4 separate regions of the Homo sapiens genome follow, and regions 2, 3 and 4 are each linked to region 1. The links come from fine-mapping of genetic effects on gene expression. A gene starts in region 1. Each other region holds a variant in brackets. All regions are shown on one strand. Distances are between the middles of the regions.

Region 1 (4,124 bases):
GACTTGAAACCACTGCCAGTTCAAAGGTTACTTTTTTCCAACTGTCAGAATTTATAACCAACTCACCTTGCAGCCGTTGAAGGAAAAGAGGCTTGAATATTTTTGCCAGAAAGTTGACTGGATGGCATTCATTAAGTGAACATGAATGAAGAAGTTTCAATAATGATTTGGGTGGAAAATAATTGAAATGAGTGAATAGCACGTTTTCCAGCTTTCTAAATAAAGCAGAGGCATTTGGTGGCAAATAATTGAGTTTCCCAAATGGTTCCATTAAGGCAGAAATCTGACGAGGTGAAAATTTTTCTGTTTGGCAAACAAAAGTTTCTGCCACTGCATTGAGGATGGGTTTTGAAAGAATCAGTTCTCTACTGCAGTACTCCATGACCCTGCAGACAACTTCAGGATCCAACGTGAGGCACACCGCAGCTACACGATGCTCTAGGGCTTTTGTAAAAAATGTGTCATGGTGCCCAAAATATATGAACGCCTCCAAGACTCTCCTAAGCTCCTCGTTAGTGAAATGTGGGACATGCCTCACGACATATTTGCCCAATTTTATAATCAGAGGAAATGCTTGACTTTGATCAAGAACCACCAGGGCAGTGAGCATTTGGCTAATCAATTTAGGACTCAGGTTGGAAACTATTGATAGGGAAAAGTTGTTTATCTTATTTAAAAATGTTTGGTGTTCATCCACTTTTTCAGTACATGCCTGCAAGATTCTATAAAGGGCCACAATATCCTCCGGGGTAAATGTTTCCAATTTTTCACCTTGAAGTTGATTTATAATGAGTTCTAGTGTCACACAACCTGAACTGTGCAGTGTAATCAGACTTTCCCCAAGAATACAAAGATTGCGAACTTCCATGCCACCTTTTCTGAGACGATTTTGGCATTCTGCCACCAGGTTCAGCAACAGGCTACTTTGAGGATCCACATGCAACAGAATCAGAGCTTGCAAAGCAGTCACTAAACTAGTGTTTGACAGCTGTGAGGGCTCCTTTTCAAACTGAAAGCATAAAGCTTGAAAGATGCTATTCTCCAGTATTTCTTTTGGCAGCCCTTGATCACCATCCTTTTTTTCCACTTCACAAATTCGTTGTAAAGCTCCTGCTGCCATAGTGTCAGGCAGGGTTTCCATCGTGCTTATAAAACTTAGCACTTCTTCTGATGAAGTCAAGTTGCTCAGTCTCCTGTAAAACATCTGACTCTCCTCATTTTTAACATTTTGTTCAAGCCTGTCGCAGTCAGATACTTGAGAGAACACTGGTCCACCGAGTGGATGAAGGTCATTTCCATTTTTCGAATGAAACTTTTTACAATGGGCATGATGGAATTTGACCCCGAAAGGCTCAGGTTGTCGTGAACACAACCAAGGGCACAGACGCTCCTTGACTACCTTGTGAACATGATTTAGAGGTTTATTTTTTAAAGCAGCCAGAGCTCTATGCATCTGAAAATCAGATAAACGATAAAGGTTCTTCCTCAAGGTGATTAATGCCATACCATCAGATTCTCAATTTGATAACTAAATTAAAAAATTTAAAAACACATGGTTAAATACATTGAGAACATGATTGACCCAACATCAATGTTTATGAAACTACAAACGAGTATCTGGAAAAAAAAAAAAAAAAAAAAAAAGGATGGTTAACATATAAACACCAGAGGGGCAAAGTCTCTGCATCCTAGAGTTAGAAGAGTGGCTGACATTGAACAATAACAATCGCTATTACTTGCTAAACACTGTTGTAGGTATTCTATTAACTTACACAGATTCAGTACTTTTACTATCATTTTACACGAGGAAGAAGTTGAAGCACAAAGTTACTTTGCCCAGTTTATGCAGGTGGTTAAGTGGCAGAGCTAGGGTTCAAACTCAGGCAATGTAGCTCTTAAGGGTGGCCCTTAAATGTTGGTTGAAGGAAGAAATTGCATTTGGATAGAAATCAAAGAACAGGTAAAGTGGGCAAAATTAGGCGAGGTTAGAGCAAGGCAAGGGTAAAAACGCGCTGGAAAGGCCCTAAGCTGTTGGTTTCCCCTCGGTGTCGGGAGAAGGTTAGTGTTGAAGGAAAGGGTCTACTTTGTCAATGGAAACAAGGTAGGAAAAGAAAAAGCAAAACATAGATCAATGAAGGGAGAAGGTGGGGCGGCCAGTCCAGATCTAAAGACGGTGCGGGGGGATTTGGCAACACGTGTGTGCAAGACAGACAGACGGGAGGCCCCGCGGCGCGTTTTCCTAGGAATGAAAGGGACCCGCGGGGCGAGCACCCCCAAACTCGGCGCCCCGGGGACCTGCGCTGAGACACGGGCCGGGCGGCGCAGCCTGAGGAGAAAGCCGGCCAGGTCTTTGACACCCAGCCGGACCAACTGCGCGGAGACCCCGCGTTGACACCTACCGCGCTCTGCCGGGCAATCACTCCGGGTGGTCGCGGAAGCGCCTGGGCGTCGTGGGCCTCCGTAGCAAACGCGGGGCGGGAGCACGACTCAGGGCGGCGCAATGTGATTGGCCCAGGTCCCCTTCGGAGCTTTCTATTGGTCCTGGGTACCGAGCATGGGCGCTGCGTCAGTGCGCGCTGGCGCAAGGTTGGTGGAAGTCGCGTTGTGCAGGTTCGTGCCCGGCTGGCGCGGCGTGGGTAAGCTGCCTGTCGGCTACGGTTCCCGGATTCCGGCCGCTCGCCCTGCACTAATCTCCTGGGAGAGGCGGCCCGGGGCGGGGGTGGGCAGCCGGCTTGCGCCCGTGGTTCCCACGCCCTTCGGCCTCCGGGGGTCGCCGCGGGCGCGGGCTGGGGCTCGGACTTGGCCTTTGGCCTTTGGCTTTGGTGTCCCCGGGAGCGTGTCCTTGGGCTCGGCGTCGGCCTCTGCCGCGGGAGGCCCCTGGGCGGCGTGGGGTCTCTCCTCATGTTCTGCCTTTGGTTCTAGGCGCTTTCCAGGCCTAGGGAAACCGCACTCGGGGACGCGGGGAACTGGGGAACATGCCGGGTTGGGGCGGCGCGCTCCGGGGAACCCGGGACGTTCCGAGCGCCCACCCGGCGGGACGCGGCCGTGAGTTCTGCCCGCGGCCGTGAGCTCTGCCCACCGCCTCCGCGCCGCTTCCGGGGCTGCTGGGGCCCGGGCCTCCGCTGAGAGTCGTGGGAAGGTGGTGCCGGATTGTGGGGCAGTAGCAGGGATGAGGGGTTGATTGATCCTGGGAAGCCCTCAGGATGTGTGTTTCATGGGAAGTGATAGAAATTTTAGCTGTAGTAAGGTTTTCATTATCGTTTCCACCGTTTTCTGTGAGCTGTCAATGTGTAGTGTTTTCATATTGTTTATTCACTCATTCAGATAACTTATCGAGTACCAGTTTCATGCCAGGTGCCGTTCTGGGCGGTTCATTCACCGAAAGCCAAGCTTTTGGTTTGGGTTTCAGTTTAAATCTGTCTCTGCAAATTGACAGCCCACCAATTTTAGCCGTTAGATGAGTATGGAAAAAAATCTGTGAGTGTCGTTTGTTTTACTACTGCTTATCTCTTGCGGAAAAACGTGTTAGTAAAATGTTTAAGTGGATTGGAAATATTTTTTCGTTATATGCACCCGTTTGTATATATGCCCATACACTCACATATTTTTGATTTGCATTAAATAATGAAGGAGAGTATGTGCTTCAGTTACCTTTAGTACTATGATTAGTTTGTTTAGCGTTAGGATCAAATAAGAACCAAGAATCCTATCATTTTAATATAGTTTTTACTTTTATCTTTTTTTAAAAAGAGGAAACCAAAAGCTATTTAAGACTGTTGTGAATGATACTGTGGCTCAAGTTTTGTTCAGGTTCTTGGCTTGTGCCACATCGTTTTTCAGGTAGGTGGTAATACTCTCATTTTTAGGATAAAGGAGCTGTGGTACGGATCATTTGGGGAGCTTGTCTACAGGGTTGCACTTAGGAAACACAGATTCAAGCCCAAGTAGTTTCGAGCCGATCATCTGATTTCTGAGCCATGGAATTAGAGTTTCATTCGTACACTCTCCTTAATTTGATGAATTCTTATTTAGGCTCATTTGAGATTAGTGCTGAAAACAAATTTAGAAAAGGCCATTTCATATTATGTGTGGGTATTGTTGCATTGTTTCTTAAAGATTGAGGG
Region 2 (4,181 bases), 92 kb after region 1:
TGTAGACATGGACACCATGCTGAGTTACGGATACATTCTTGTAAACAAAGTTACCAGGTCAAAGGCAAGCACCCATTTCAGGCTTCTGATGTCACTGCTAAGTTGATCTTTGGAAAAGTTCACTTGACCAACAGTATGTCAAATTGCCTATTTCCAAGCACAACAGTAGCTTTAGAGATTCAGTGTTTAATCTCTGCCAGGCTTATTGGTGAACGCCATCTAGCATGTTGAATGACTCTGAGATGATGAGCCCATTTAGTTAGAATAAGGGGAGGCCTATCTGTAGAAATGGCATAAACCATCTCTACTCAGAGATCACCCTACCGGCCTGTGGGGCAGTGCCATGCTTGTGTGAAATAAGAATGTAGTTGGTGCGTCCCTTTAGGTAAGTCTCCGAGTTGGTCATGGAGCATCAGTCCTTTCCCCCAAGGATACTCTCTCCAAGTGATTTCTGGAAGCCCTAAGAGGGTGCCCCTGCATCCCCACAAACAAGCCTGACCCTTTGCCATTCTCCATGGGTAAATTACCCCTCGCCAAAAGGCAGAGCGTGCAAATTCCCGGAGAACGCTCCTGCTTTCAGACTCACAGGAACACTGAGAACTCCTGGCCGGTCTCAGAGCTGCTGTTCCTCCAGACTGTAGGCTGGTGCTGGGCAGAGGCCAAGAGGGAGAAGGGGCCTCCCCCAACACTCAGAGGTGAACTCGAACAACAGTGGTGAAGGGAAATTCTCAGCATGAGCCTGGGAAGCTGAAGGTTGGGGGCCGGAACAGCCTGAAGTCTTATTTACTCACATGAGGGGCTGTCACATGGGACCCTGGCTGGGCCTCTTGCCTGAAACATCTCCCTGTGGCTTCTCCCTGTGGGCAGGGCTTCTTCACAGTGTGTCACTGGGTTGCACAGGTGAGCATCTGAAAAGTGAGAGAGGCAGGCACAGAAGTCAGGTGCATCACTTTGACCACATCCTGTTCATTCACCTGCCAGGTTCAAGGGAAGGAGAAAAATCGTCCACCTGTAAATGGGGGAGCACACGTGGGACCAGAAATATTGCTGCATCCTCAATGGGAAAATGCTTCTGCAACACGGTTGAGAGTTGCCAATATTATCTTCATTTTGCCATCAACCTGCCACGTTTCAGGGAATTTTCTACTTGTTTGGATTGGCAATTTTCCACCTTCTCTTTTTCTCAAATATAGGTTGCAGAATTCGAGTCACAAATAGCGTGAGGGCAAACAACGCGGGCACAGTGGACTTCAGAGAAGCATTAATGAAACTTTAAATCGCACGTGGCCTCAGGATATCCCACACAGTGTCTGTGGCAATATGCAAATTTGTGGTATATGAAATTAGGAGTGTCTTATTTCAAACTCCAAATTGGCCTTCAGGAAATTGCTTCTGAAGTTACTGTATTAGTTTGCTAGGGCTGCTATAGCAAAATAAAACAACTAGGTGACCTGAACAGCAGAAATTTATTTTCTTACAATTCTGGGGGCTGGAAGTCCAAGATCAAGGTGTTAGCAGGGTCAGGTGTTAGCAGGGTTAGATCAAGGTGTTAGAAGGCCCTCTCCTGGGCTTCTGGATGGCCTCTTCCTCTGGTGTCCACACATCGTCTTCCATCTTTGCATGTTTCTGTCTTAATCTCCTCTTCTTATAAGGATACCAGTCGTACTGGATTAGAGGCCACTCTAATGACCTCCTTTACCTTAATTAACTCTTTAAAGACCCTGTTTCCAAATATGGTTACATTATGAGTTATTGGGGTGGGGGGCTTTAGAACTTGAATATACAAATTTGGGAAGACAAAATTAGCTGCAATAATCACTGCTATAGAAAGTCTTATGACAGTGACCTTGTAGGCTACTCCGGAGTCACATTTTCATCTGTCTTCTAGACATTTTGTGTCTGATAATCTTCCTTTCCTCAATGCTTCCTAATCCTGATTTTTCTGTGTCTGTTTAGAATATCTCATCCTCTCAAGGCATCAGGACAAAAATGAATA[A/C]ATAAAAAATAGTAACTAAACAAAAATCTCCAGTGTTAACTATAATTTTCTGTCTTTTTTTTTTTTTTTGTATCCTAAGTCCTCATGATTATTCCTTTGAAGTAACTTCCATTTTTGTCCCTTCTTACTTCTCCATCTCACTTCTGGCTTTTCTCATGGTTTTTGTCTTTTATCAGATTGATACAGTGTGTTACATTAATTTGTTTAAAACATTAAACCAACCCTGCATCCTTAGGATAAATCCTACTTTTTAATGTGCTTAAAAAAAAAAAAAGAAAAAGAATGGCCACTCCATAGGCAGAGCAGGGGCATGAGCCACTGGTTGCCCATTTTTATGGTTATTTCTTGATTATATGCTAAACAAGGGGTGGATTATTCATGAGTTTTCTGGGAAAGGGGTGGGCAATTCCCAGAACTGAGGGTTCCTCCCATTTTTGGACCATATAGGGTAACTTTCTGAAGTTGCCATGGCATTTGTAAACTGTCGTGGTGCTGGTGGGAGTATAGCCTTAAGGACGACCGGAGGTCACTCTTGTTGCCATCTTGGTTTTGGTGGGTTTTAGCTGGTTTCTTTACTGCATCCTCTTTTATCAGCAAGGTCGTTATGACCTGTATCTTGTGCTGACCTTCTATTTCATCCTGTGAGTTAGAATGCCTAATTGTCTGGGAATGTAGCCCAGTAGGTCTCAGCCTTATTTTGCTCACCCTATTCAAGATGGAGTTGCTCTGGTTCAAAGGCCTCTGACAATATCACCCCTACTTTTCTGTTCTTCAGACTTGTTGAGGAAATCAGCAAGCGTTAATGCTTTAAAATAAACTATGCAGACTGAGAAAAATTTTCAGTAGTACTTATCTCTCACTGTGCTGTTTTGTGGATATTTGTGTGTCCATCATGTCTCACGACCGTATCTCCTCAAGGAAAGACTGATTAGACATACATTTTTAAACTGCTTGGCAGGGCAGTGTCTTGGCACAAAGGGGTCTCAATGCAATCTACTGTATCAATGAGCGGACCATAGAAGAATGTGATGAACAGGTAGCTCACTCATACACTATAGCTTACTCCTATGTTATAGTTTACTTATGCACTATAGATTTTAGAAATTTCTATCATTAAAGAAAACAATTTCAAAGAGAAGTTTATAAAACTTAATAATCTTTAGGAAAGTGATATCTTTGGGGAAATCAGCATGAAACATTTTGTTGTTTTAAAGTGACCACAGAAAAACATGTTTTGATATTGCCTCTTTGATTTCTGTCACCTTATGATAATTTTTTTTCCTGGATTCAAGCAGACACACAATTTCTCTGGAAAAAAACTGTTTCTCTTCATAAAATAAAAAACAAACAAACATTGCATTCACAACTCTGCTCCCATAACTGCTTGAAGCCTCAGATTTTGTGAGGGGCACGTCCCTCCCATTTGTCTCTTTCAAAAATAAAATCTATGGGCCTTGGCTTCTGTAAACTCTTTGGAGAAAAATGCAAATCTTGAGACACTGTGTACTTTGTACTTCTGCAGTCATACAGTCATTTATGATCATCGGTGAGCTCCTCAATCACAGGAAACATCTGGCTGCAGCAGCAAATGTCTTATTTTACCTTTCTTCCTAGACAGAGGAACATCCTTTACTGCATTACAAAATCCTTGAATATCTTCACAATGCTATAAATCTCAACATGACCTGTATTTGTCCTTAATATGTTGAATGAACAAAATACCACAGCTTGACTTGCACTCAGAGCTGATCTAGTGACAGCTCTTTCCTCCCACCTTTGAGGAACCTCAAGCAGGAGGGCAAAGTGCATTTCTAGGTGGCAGATCTCACCGGGGCAGGGACAGGGGCAGGGGCAGCGCTGGCCCTGCAACTTCTGAGGTACAGCCAAATGCTACTTTTGCCTCCTGTGCAGAGTCCTGGGGTGGAGTCTCCTGAGTGGGCTTTTGTCCCCACACACGTTGGAGCATTCTGTGTGTGTGAGGGTCCATGTGGACTGCCTCCCGCCAGTGTCACTTAGGTCCCTGAACCCCCTCTCAGCTATGCAAAGGGAATGAAGTTCTCTGAGCTGTGCGAAGCTGCAGAAACCCATTCACCATGACCCATGCTTGGTACTGTCTTCAATTTTATACCTGCTGCCTGCAGACAAGACCCATCTTCTGGTTGAATTAAGGACAGGTATCAGTTTA
Region 3 (4,181 bases), 50 kb after region 1:
TGCAAGTGTCTGGGATCTCAGTGGAATAAAAGGCCAGCCTCCAGACAAATGGAAATGAGTCTAGGAGATGAAGGAAGAAATAAGTGAAAAGGTTCCCAAAGCAGGCAGTTCTGCAAAGGGAGCAAACATAAAATTGAAGAGGTATATGAAGGTCTTCTTCAATTTACCTTAATAATAAAAGTATCTATTTCCTTGGCTTTCAGAATTTAGCCCTCAGGGCAGTTAAATTGGAAATGATAGCGGTATTGTGTAATGTTTACTTTGAACCACACATGTAAGAATGATTTAGGAACTGGATTCTATTACAAATGCCCACATAAACCTCTAGGGCTCCCTCATCCTGCTCACATTTCAAACAGCTTGTCTCTCCACATCACCGCAAAGCTGCTTTTCTTGGGAGAATTCATTATAAAACTCGAAGGGCAGTTTGGACGAGGGCAACCATTAGGCTAGATCACTTACAAACTGGTGTAGGTATTGGAAAATGAATGGGAATAAATACTGTTTGAAATACTACAGGGAAGCTTACAAGCCTCAGCTTCCTGGTGTGACATCATTATTGTGCATGATCCTAGAATGAGTGGGAACGTGCCCACTTAGGCTTATTTCCATAGAAATGTCATTGGATTTTTTTTTTTTTAAACCAAGGAAACTCGAATCACAAAGTTGGTTCCAAGGCTGGTTCTTACACCATCTTGACAAGCCATTCATTCACACACCATCTCAACAAGTGACATCATCTTGACAAGACCTTGATCTTCCTCTGTACATCCAGGCAGCCAAGCTGTATGAACTGGAGCTTTCCATCTATAGTCTTCTGTTTCTTAGTATGCGGGTTATACAAGTGTTAACTCAGTGTAGATTGAGAAAAAAGAAAAACTACCAGCAAATGTTCTATTGAGACAAAAAAGATATGGGAGAGTGTTTTCAAAAATTATAAAGTTCTAGGCAAATGGCTGCCTTCTTATTACTAGTATTATAACTTTTGTTAAATATTTGATCGATTCCTCACTTTCCCTTAACAGAAATATGTTTAATGGACATTGGAAAGAGAAAATGTTGTTGAATTCTGAAAGTTTAGGTAAGTTATTGTATTAGTTTGTGAGGACTGTCATAACAAACTACCACATTCTGGGTGGTTTAAACAAAGGAAATTTATTTTCTCACTGTTCTGGAAGCACAGAAGATCAATGTCAGCAGGGTTAGGTTTTTCTGAGGCCTCTTTCCTTGGCTTGTATATGGCTGTCTTTTCCTTGTATTGTCACATGGTATTTTCCCTGTATATGTCTGTATTCAAATTTCTTCTTCTTGTAAGGACACCAGTCATACTGGACACCCTAATGACTCTATTTTAACTTAATTACCTCGTTAAACACCCCATCATCAAATATAGCCACATTCTGAAGTACCGGGGGTTAGGACTTCAACGTATAAGCCTGGGAAGGTGGATATAACTCAATCCATAACAGTTATTGCATCACAGTTTTTACAGCTTTATTGAATGATAACTGTCATACAATCAACTACACGTTTAAAGTTCACAATATGGTGACTTTTGACATCTGCATATCACTGAGTTGAAATAATGAACACCAAGAACTTTTCTGTGACCCTTTGAAACACATACTTTCCATCACTTCAATACCCCTGTTGTTGCAAACAACCGAGGGTCTGCTTTATGTCACTATAGAGTACTTTACATTTTCTAGAACTTTCTATGAATTGAATCATATGCTATGTACTTTCCTTTTCTCTGACTTCTTTCAGGCAGCATAAATGTTTTAAAATTTGTTTATGTTGTTGCATGCATCAGTAGTTTATCCCTTGTTATTGCTGAGTAATATTCCATTGTATGAATATATCATGATTTGCTGATTCATTCACATTTTGATGAAAATTTGGGTTTTTCCAGTGTTTGGCTATTTCAGATAAAGCTGCTGTGACTTTGGTGCACAGGAATTTGTGTGACTATATGCTTTTATTACTTCAGCAGATCCCTAGATATGGAATAACTGGGCCATGTGAAGGTAATGTTTTTAGAAACTTCCAAAGTGTTTCCCAAAGAGGTTGTGCTACTTTATAAGA[A/G]ACGGTTTTATTTTTATTTTTTATTTTTTTGCTTCACATCCTCACCAGGTATACTTGTTCTGGTCAGTCTCTTTTGATTTTAGCTATTCTCATGTTTGTGTTGTGTTATCTCATTGTGCTTTTAACCTGCATTCTCCTAATGACTACTGATGTTGAGCTTATTTTCAGCTGTTTATTTGCCATTCATTTATCATCTTTGGTAGAGTGTCCGTTCAAAACTGTTTTCCATATTTTATATTTTATCATTAGGCTGTAAGAGTTTTATTTTATATATTCAGAAAAAAGTTTTCATCAAATATATATTTTTTCCCATTTGGTGACTTACAGTTTCATTTTTAATACATATTTGGAGAGGAGAAATTTTTAATTAAAATGAAGTCCAAAGTTCTTTTCCTTTTTTAAAATTGTTAGTGCCTTTTGGGTTCTACTTAAAAACATCTGCCAAGCTCAAGGTCTCTAAGATTTTCTCCTATGTTTTGTTTGGGAAATGTTATGATTTTATCTCTTAAATTTAGGTTTATGACCCATTTTCAGGTAGTATTTATGTATTATGTAAGGTAAGGGTTGTGGTTCATTTTTCATGCATATGGATAATGGATATCCACTTGCTCCAGCACTATTTATTTAAACAATTGGACTTTCCTTATTGTGTCACCTTGGTACCTTTGTCAAATTTGAATTGCTCGTCAATAGTTGACCCTTGAACAACACAGAAGTTAGAAATGCTGATTCCCTGTGTAGTCAAAAATCCACATATAATTTTTGACTTCCCCTAACTTAACTACTAATAATTTGCTGTTGACTGGAAACTTTACCAGTTTCATTATGGCACTCATTATGAAGTTTTTTATCCTCATTGTCTTCATGTTGAATGCAAATAAGAGGAGGAGGCAAAAGAGGAGAGGTTGGTCTGGCTGTCTCTTGAGTGGCAGAAGTGCAAGAAACTCCACATATGGTGGAACTGCACAGTTCAAAGTTGTGTTGTTCAAAGATCAACTGTACAGTGTGGCTGTGTTTCTGGATTCTCTAACCTGTTCCATTGATTTCTATGTTTATCTTTATGCCCATACAAAACTAGCTATTATAGGTTTACAAAGTTTTGAAATCAAGTAGTGTAATTCTCCAACTTTGTTCTTCTGTTATAAAATATGTTATTTCTAGGTTCATTGCATTTCCATACAAATTTTGGAATGAGCATTTCAATTTCTGCAAAAAAAATTATTCTCAAACTTTAGTTTTAATTGCATTGGGGAAAACTGACATCTTTACAATACTGAGTCTTTCCTTCATAAAACATAGGATACTCTTCTATTTATTTAGACATTTAATTTCTTTCAGCAATGCTTTATAAATTTTAGTGTACACATTTTAGAAAGTTTTTGTCAAATTTATCTAAATATTTCATTTTTTTCATGTGCTTTTAAATGGTATTTTTAAAAGTTTCAATTCCCAGTTGTTCATTGCTGGTGCGTAGAAATGTAATTGATTTTTGTATATTGACCTTTTATCGTGTAACCATGATAACTCAATTATTAGTTATAATAGCTGTTTTTTAAATGGCTTAAGATTTTCTACATAGATAAGCACATAATCTGCAAGTAAAGAAAATTATACTTTATTATTTCAGTCTTCGCATACTTTATTTCTTTTTCTTGTGTTATTGCACTGGCTATAACATTCAGTATAATGTTGAATAAAAGTGGGGAGAAGAGATTTTTTTACTTGTTTCTGATCTTTGGGGGAAAACTTTTTTTTTTTTTTTTTTTTGTTTTTTTGAGATGGAGTCTCGCTCTGTCGCCCAGGCTGGAGTGCAGTGGCACAATCTTGGCTCATTGCAAGCTCTGCCTCCTGGGTTCACACCATTCTCCTGCCTCAGCCTCCTGAGTAGCTGGGACTACAGGCCCCCGCCACCACACCTGGCTAATTTTTTGTATATTTAGTAGAGATGGGGTTTCACCATGTTAGCCAGGATGGTCTCGATCTCCTGACCTCGTGATCCGCCTGCCTTGGCCTTCCAAAGTGCTGGGATTACAGGCGTGAGCCACTGCACCTGGCCCATTTTTTTTTATCATTGCATATGATGTTACCTCTAGGGT
Region 4 (4,181 bases), 76 kb after region 1:
GTCCATTTAAACCCACAAACTTTTAGTAATTCAGGAGATGCAGTGTTGATACAAGGAAGTAAAAGATTCCAATGATCTGCCTTCAAGAAGTTCACAATACAGTTAGAAAAACAGAGACCCTACATTTACTGTTACACCATGGCCAGAATTACACCACCAGTGTGGACCTCCTGTGCCCTGGGAAGCCTGGAAGGGGAGTGAATGGGTAACTAGGAGCAGTGTAATTTCTTAAGCGATTTGATCTTTGAGGGGAACTCAGGTCTTTGAGATCGTTTACATTTTAAAATTTAAAATTTTACAATGTAAAATTTACTGTTACATTTACTGGGGTGCAGCCTAGTGAGCCTGCTGGTGCCCTCAGCTGCATGAGCACTTCTGCTCCAACCCACCCACTTCCTGCCACTCTCCCAGAGGGAGCCGGGTGAGAGAACATTGGCGTGTACACTGGATATGAAGTGTGGATGTGCATGAGTGAATTCTGGATTCGTGGGAGAACAGCATCACATAACCATGTGCAGTTTGCAGACAAATGTGGGATGATGTGTCCTTGAACACAATAATAGAATCACTGCATGTGTAGAGAGTGGTTCTGAAAACCTTTTCATAAAAGCGGAGATCACATGGGAAATGACTGGATTAATGAGGACCAGCGTGATGGACTTTTTAAAGGATTTTAGTAAGGCTAAGAAATGCCTACGCTGAGATGTGACTGGCATTCATTAAGGAATGCCCAAGTTTAGTCCTTTTCTTTTTTCTTCTCATCGTCCGTTTCTTCCTGTCTTCACAAAATGGAAGGCATTTATCAAATCAGGTCAACTGACTGCATCCAAACATCTCACTGCTGGGGAGGGACTGGCACCTACCTGGATAAACATAATTTCTCAAAAGTCAAATCTTTCACATCAGCTGAATCTCAGTATGGATCTATTCTTGGTAACGGCAATCTCATAGAAAGATATTACTTTTCTGAAAATTCAGTCATTCGTCATATGCATATGAAAAGTAAGACTTTGCAAAGCTTAAACAAATTTGTTAATTGTTAGCTACCCTACTCTTCACTCAGTAGGCTTAAACGAATTTTCTAAGGACTAACTGTCCTACTCTTGGCTGAGTATTCTCATTTGTGAAGCACTAGATGAGGAGTGATGTCGTGCAGAAGATCTAAGTCTACTGTGTACAGCTCTGAAGTAACAATCGAGGAGCGTCCTCAAGGCCTTGTTGTGAAGTTGCCGTGGGGATCACGAGGGAGCCCCATGAGATAGAAATAATTGGCTACTTTCCTGAAAAGGTAGGAGTTGAGCAAATCCTGAAGGGCAGATGTTGACAATCAATAGTTGTGCTTTTTATGCAAAGGAAAGAGTATTAGTGGATGAAAGGCAGTGAGATTGCATGTGTCATGTTGCAGTGGTTGGTGGTAAAGAGATGAGTTTGACAGGGACAGAGCATTTCTGTGGAGAGAAGCATGAAGGAAAGAGAGGAGTTAGACCTGGAAGAACCTCACAATGAGGATTTTGTCTACCTTTGTCGCAAAACAAAAAGAAAGAAACAAAAACAACTCTCACTTCTGCAGACAAGTGGCTTTCACTTAACTTTTGTTTTATGTTGTAGAGCTTCCTTCTTTCTGAAATAGAAACGTTTATGTGGAACACAAATATGTAGGACAGTTAAAGGCCGAGCCAGTGTGGCCATGGGGTGGGAAGGATGTGCTTTTCCTGCCCCATTACCCATGGGCCAGGGGCTGCCAGCACCAATAGAAACCTCCAATCAAATTGCT[A/G]TTTCTGAAAGAATCTGCACCCTGGAAGCCCTCCCTGGGAAGTGATAATCCATTCGTAGAGCCAGAGGCAATGACTACAGCACAACCAGGTGGAAAAGGTTTTGTAATTGCAGAGTGAGAGAAAGATGACAGGTGCATTGAGAGAATGAAAACTCCCTCGGGTGGGAGACTGTGCTTTTTTGTTATAAATGGACCCTCTGTTGTCTGCGTCAGCAAATGTCAAATTGCAAAGCCTGCAGATCAGGATACTGGGGCCAGTGCTCAGTGCTTAGAAAATAACCAACTGTCCTGTTTATCTTAAAACTCATCACTATTAACTTTACAGTTTAGTCAGGTTATTTCATTTCAGGAACTACAGTTTGCCAGTGTAGTAAAATTAAATTGGGACCCAGGTAACAACAAATCCTACTGTTGGGCTGTGTAAGAATTTGGGGAGCTTTTGAAGGTCATCCTTTGTGACAAACTATCAAAGTCATTTGGAAACAACAATGAGATATTACCCAACTCAGGTGGAGATAGAATTTTGCTCACTTTGGCAAGGATAATTCTGCCAACAGAAATAAAAGATTAGATGCTTGGAAACAACGGAGAGGAAGGGGTTGAGGGAAAAATCCAGGGCATGTCTGAATCGTCTGAATCCTGCGTTCACCTTGTCAGACCTGGACACCAATGTCTACAAAAATTTGACAGCCTAAAGTGGAAAACCAAGTGAATATGTCTAACTTTCAAATGGATGCATTAGAAAGAAGGTTGCCAACTTTTGTCTCTTTGGGAGAAGATTATTGTATCCACTAAATCACCTTTGGTTTACCTTTTTGGTTTACCTTTGGGTTTACCTTTTTATGATAAGATGGGTTTTGAAACACTTTCCCATAAGAAAGCTGGTCTATATTGCTTTTTTTTTTTTTTTTGGATAGAGTTTCCCTCTTGTTGCCCAGGCTGGAGTACAATGGCATGACCTAGATTCACTGCAGCCTCCGCCTCCCGGGTTCAAGAGATTCTCCTGCCTCAGGCTCCAGAGTAGCTGGGATTACAGGCACCCGCCACCATGCCTGGCTAATTTTTTGTGTTTTTAGTAGAGACAGGGTTTCATCATGTTGGCCAGGCTGTTCTTGAACTCCTGACCTCAGGCAATCCACCTGCCTCAGCCTCCCAAAGTGCTGGGATTACAGGTGTGAGCCACCACACCCAGCCTACATTGCTTTTATAATATCATCTCCAAAGTACTGCCGTCAGCATGCCCCACATCCAAGCTTTCCAATTCCCTGCAGCCCACTCTAGTAACACTCAAAGAATAGCTCTAAGGAAATAAAAACTACAGAAAAAGTCGTGATAGCCAACACTTTAACATAAAAAATGCCTAAAACCTTTTAAACTAAATTGTTTCTTAAAACAGAAGATTTTGCTAATTAGAATTAAGGCAGACTGTACTGAGATTATGTCAAGGAAAGCATTTTTGTCTGTGTTTAATTTACTACAGTTGTATTTAATTACACAGTTAAGAAGAGTAAGGAAAGTCTCAGGAGGGTGATCTTCGAGTACTCAACACCTAGGCATAAGAAACTTTGGAGTTTCCTGTATATTCTGTTTTTCAGACACACAAGGTCTCAACCTTTGCTATAAAGAGATACTACATTTATTTTGAATACTGAGAAAAATGACATTCTTCAGTAAATGCACATGGCAACTCATGTATAGAAACAAGCTCCTTGTTCAATGGACCTTCCAGTAACCATGGCAGCCACGAGTCTCTGGGATCATTTCCCTTAGATGCTGCCATGAGAATTCCAGTCTGTGGAAGATGGCACTAACATGGAATGCCTTCCTCCTCAACCTCTCAGCAATGTACACATGCCAACTACAGAAAAATGCTGAATAAGTTATAGTAAATGTAAAATAAAAGTGCATAGCTGAGATTGCAATAAAGAAAAATAAAACCACAGGTACCTAAAATGAGTGGGGATTTCCATCCAAAGCTTGAGTGGGTATTGAGCATGTTGAACATGAGAGTGGAACACCTCTGTGGAGACATCAGAAGCAAAGATTGTCTTGAGTACTAGATATTCAGTGTTCCTACAAGGACAGTTATTTTCTTGAGTTTGGTGGGAAGAGACTAGAATTAAACCTGTTTATGTAAGGCCAGAATATAAGGACTAAAAAACATCTGTTCACTGTCTTTTTTTTTTTTTTTTTTTTTTTTGAGATGGAGTCCCACTTTGTTGCCCAGGCTGGAGTGCAGTGGCACCATCTCGGCTCACTGCAACTGCCGCCTCCTGGGTTCAAGCAATTCTCGTTCCTCAGCCTCCTGAGTAGCTGGGACTATAGGCATGGCCACCAGGTCCAGCTCATTTTTATATTTTTAGTAGAGATGGGGTTTTGCCATGTTGGCCAGGCTGGTCTCAAACTC

What was found. PIP is the estimated chance that this variant, and not a neighbour inherited with it, causes the effect.
Region 2: its variant is the best candidate, but not a certain one, in a credible set for the expression of MTRR in whole blood (INTERVAL, PIP 0.85).
Region 3: its variant is the best candidate, but not a certain one, in a credible set for the expression of MTRR in platelets (CEDAR, PIP 0.51).
Region 4: its variant is the best candidate, but not a certain one, in a credible set for the expression of MTRR in cerebellum (GTEx, PIP 0.51).

What each region holds. Positions count from the first base shown.
Region 1 is chr5:7,866,580-7,870,703 of GRCh38, forward strand. It overlaps MTRR (5-methyltetrahydrofolate-homocysteine methyltransferase reductase), which reads left to right and starts at 2,569. Exons shown (of 15, transcript NM_002454.3): 1 at 2,569-2,636. It overlaps FASTKD3 (FAST kinase domains 3), which reads right to left and starts at 2,452. Exons shown (of 7, transcript NM_024091.4): 1 at 2,400-2,452; 2 at 67-1,617. The coding sequence starts at 1,504. RefSeq lists silencers at 2,462-2,901, 2,912-2,961, 3,022-3,071.
Region 2 is chr5:7,959,034-7,963,214 of GRCh38, forward strand. No RefSeq gene overlaps it. Among named protein-coding and RNA genes, the nearest start is that of MTRR, 92 kb to the left of the region's middle. The variant A/C (reference allele first, on the strand shown) is at 1,997.
Region 3 is chr5:7,916,058-7,920,238 of GRCh38, forward strand. No RefSeq gene overlaps it. Among named protein-coding and RNA genes, the nearest start is that of MTRR, 49 kb to the left of the region's middle. The variant A/G (reference allele first, on the strand shown) is at 2,086.
Region 4 is chr5:7,942,338-7,946,518 of GRCh38, forward strand. No RefSeq gene overlaps it. Among named protein-coding and RNA genes, the nearest start is that of MTRR, 75 kb to the left of the region's middle. The variant A/G (reference allele first, on the strand shown) is at 1,775.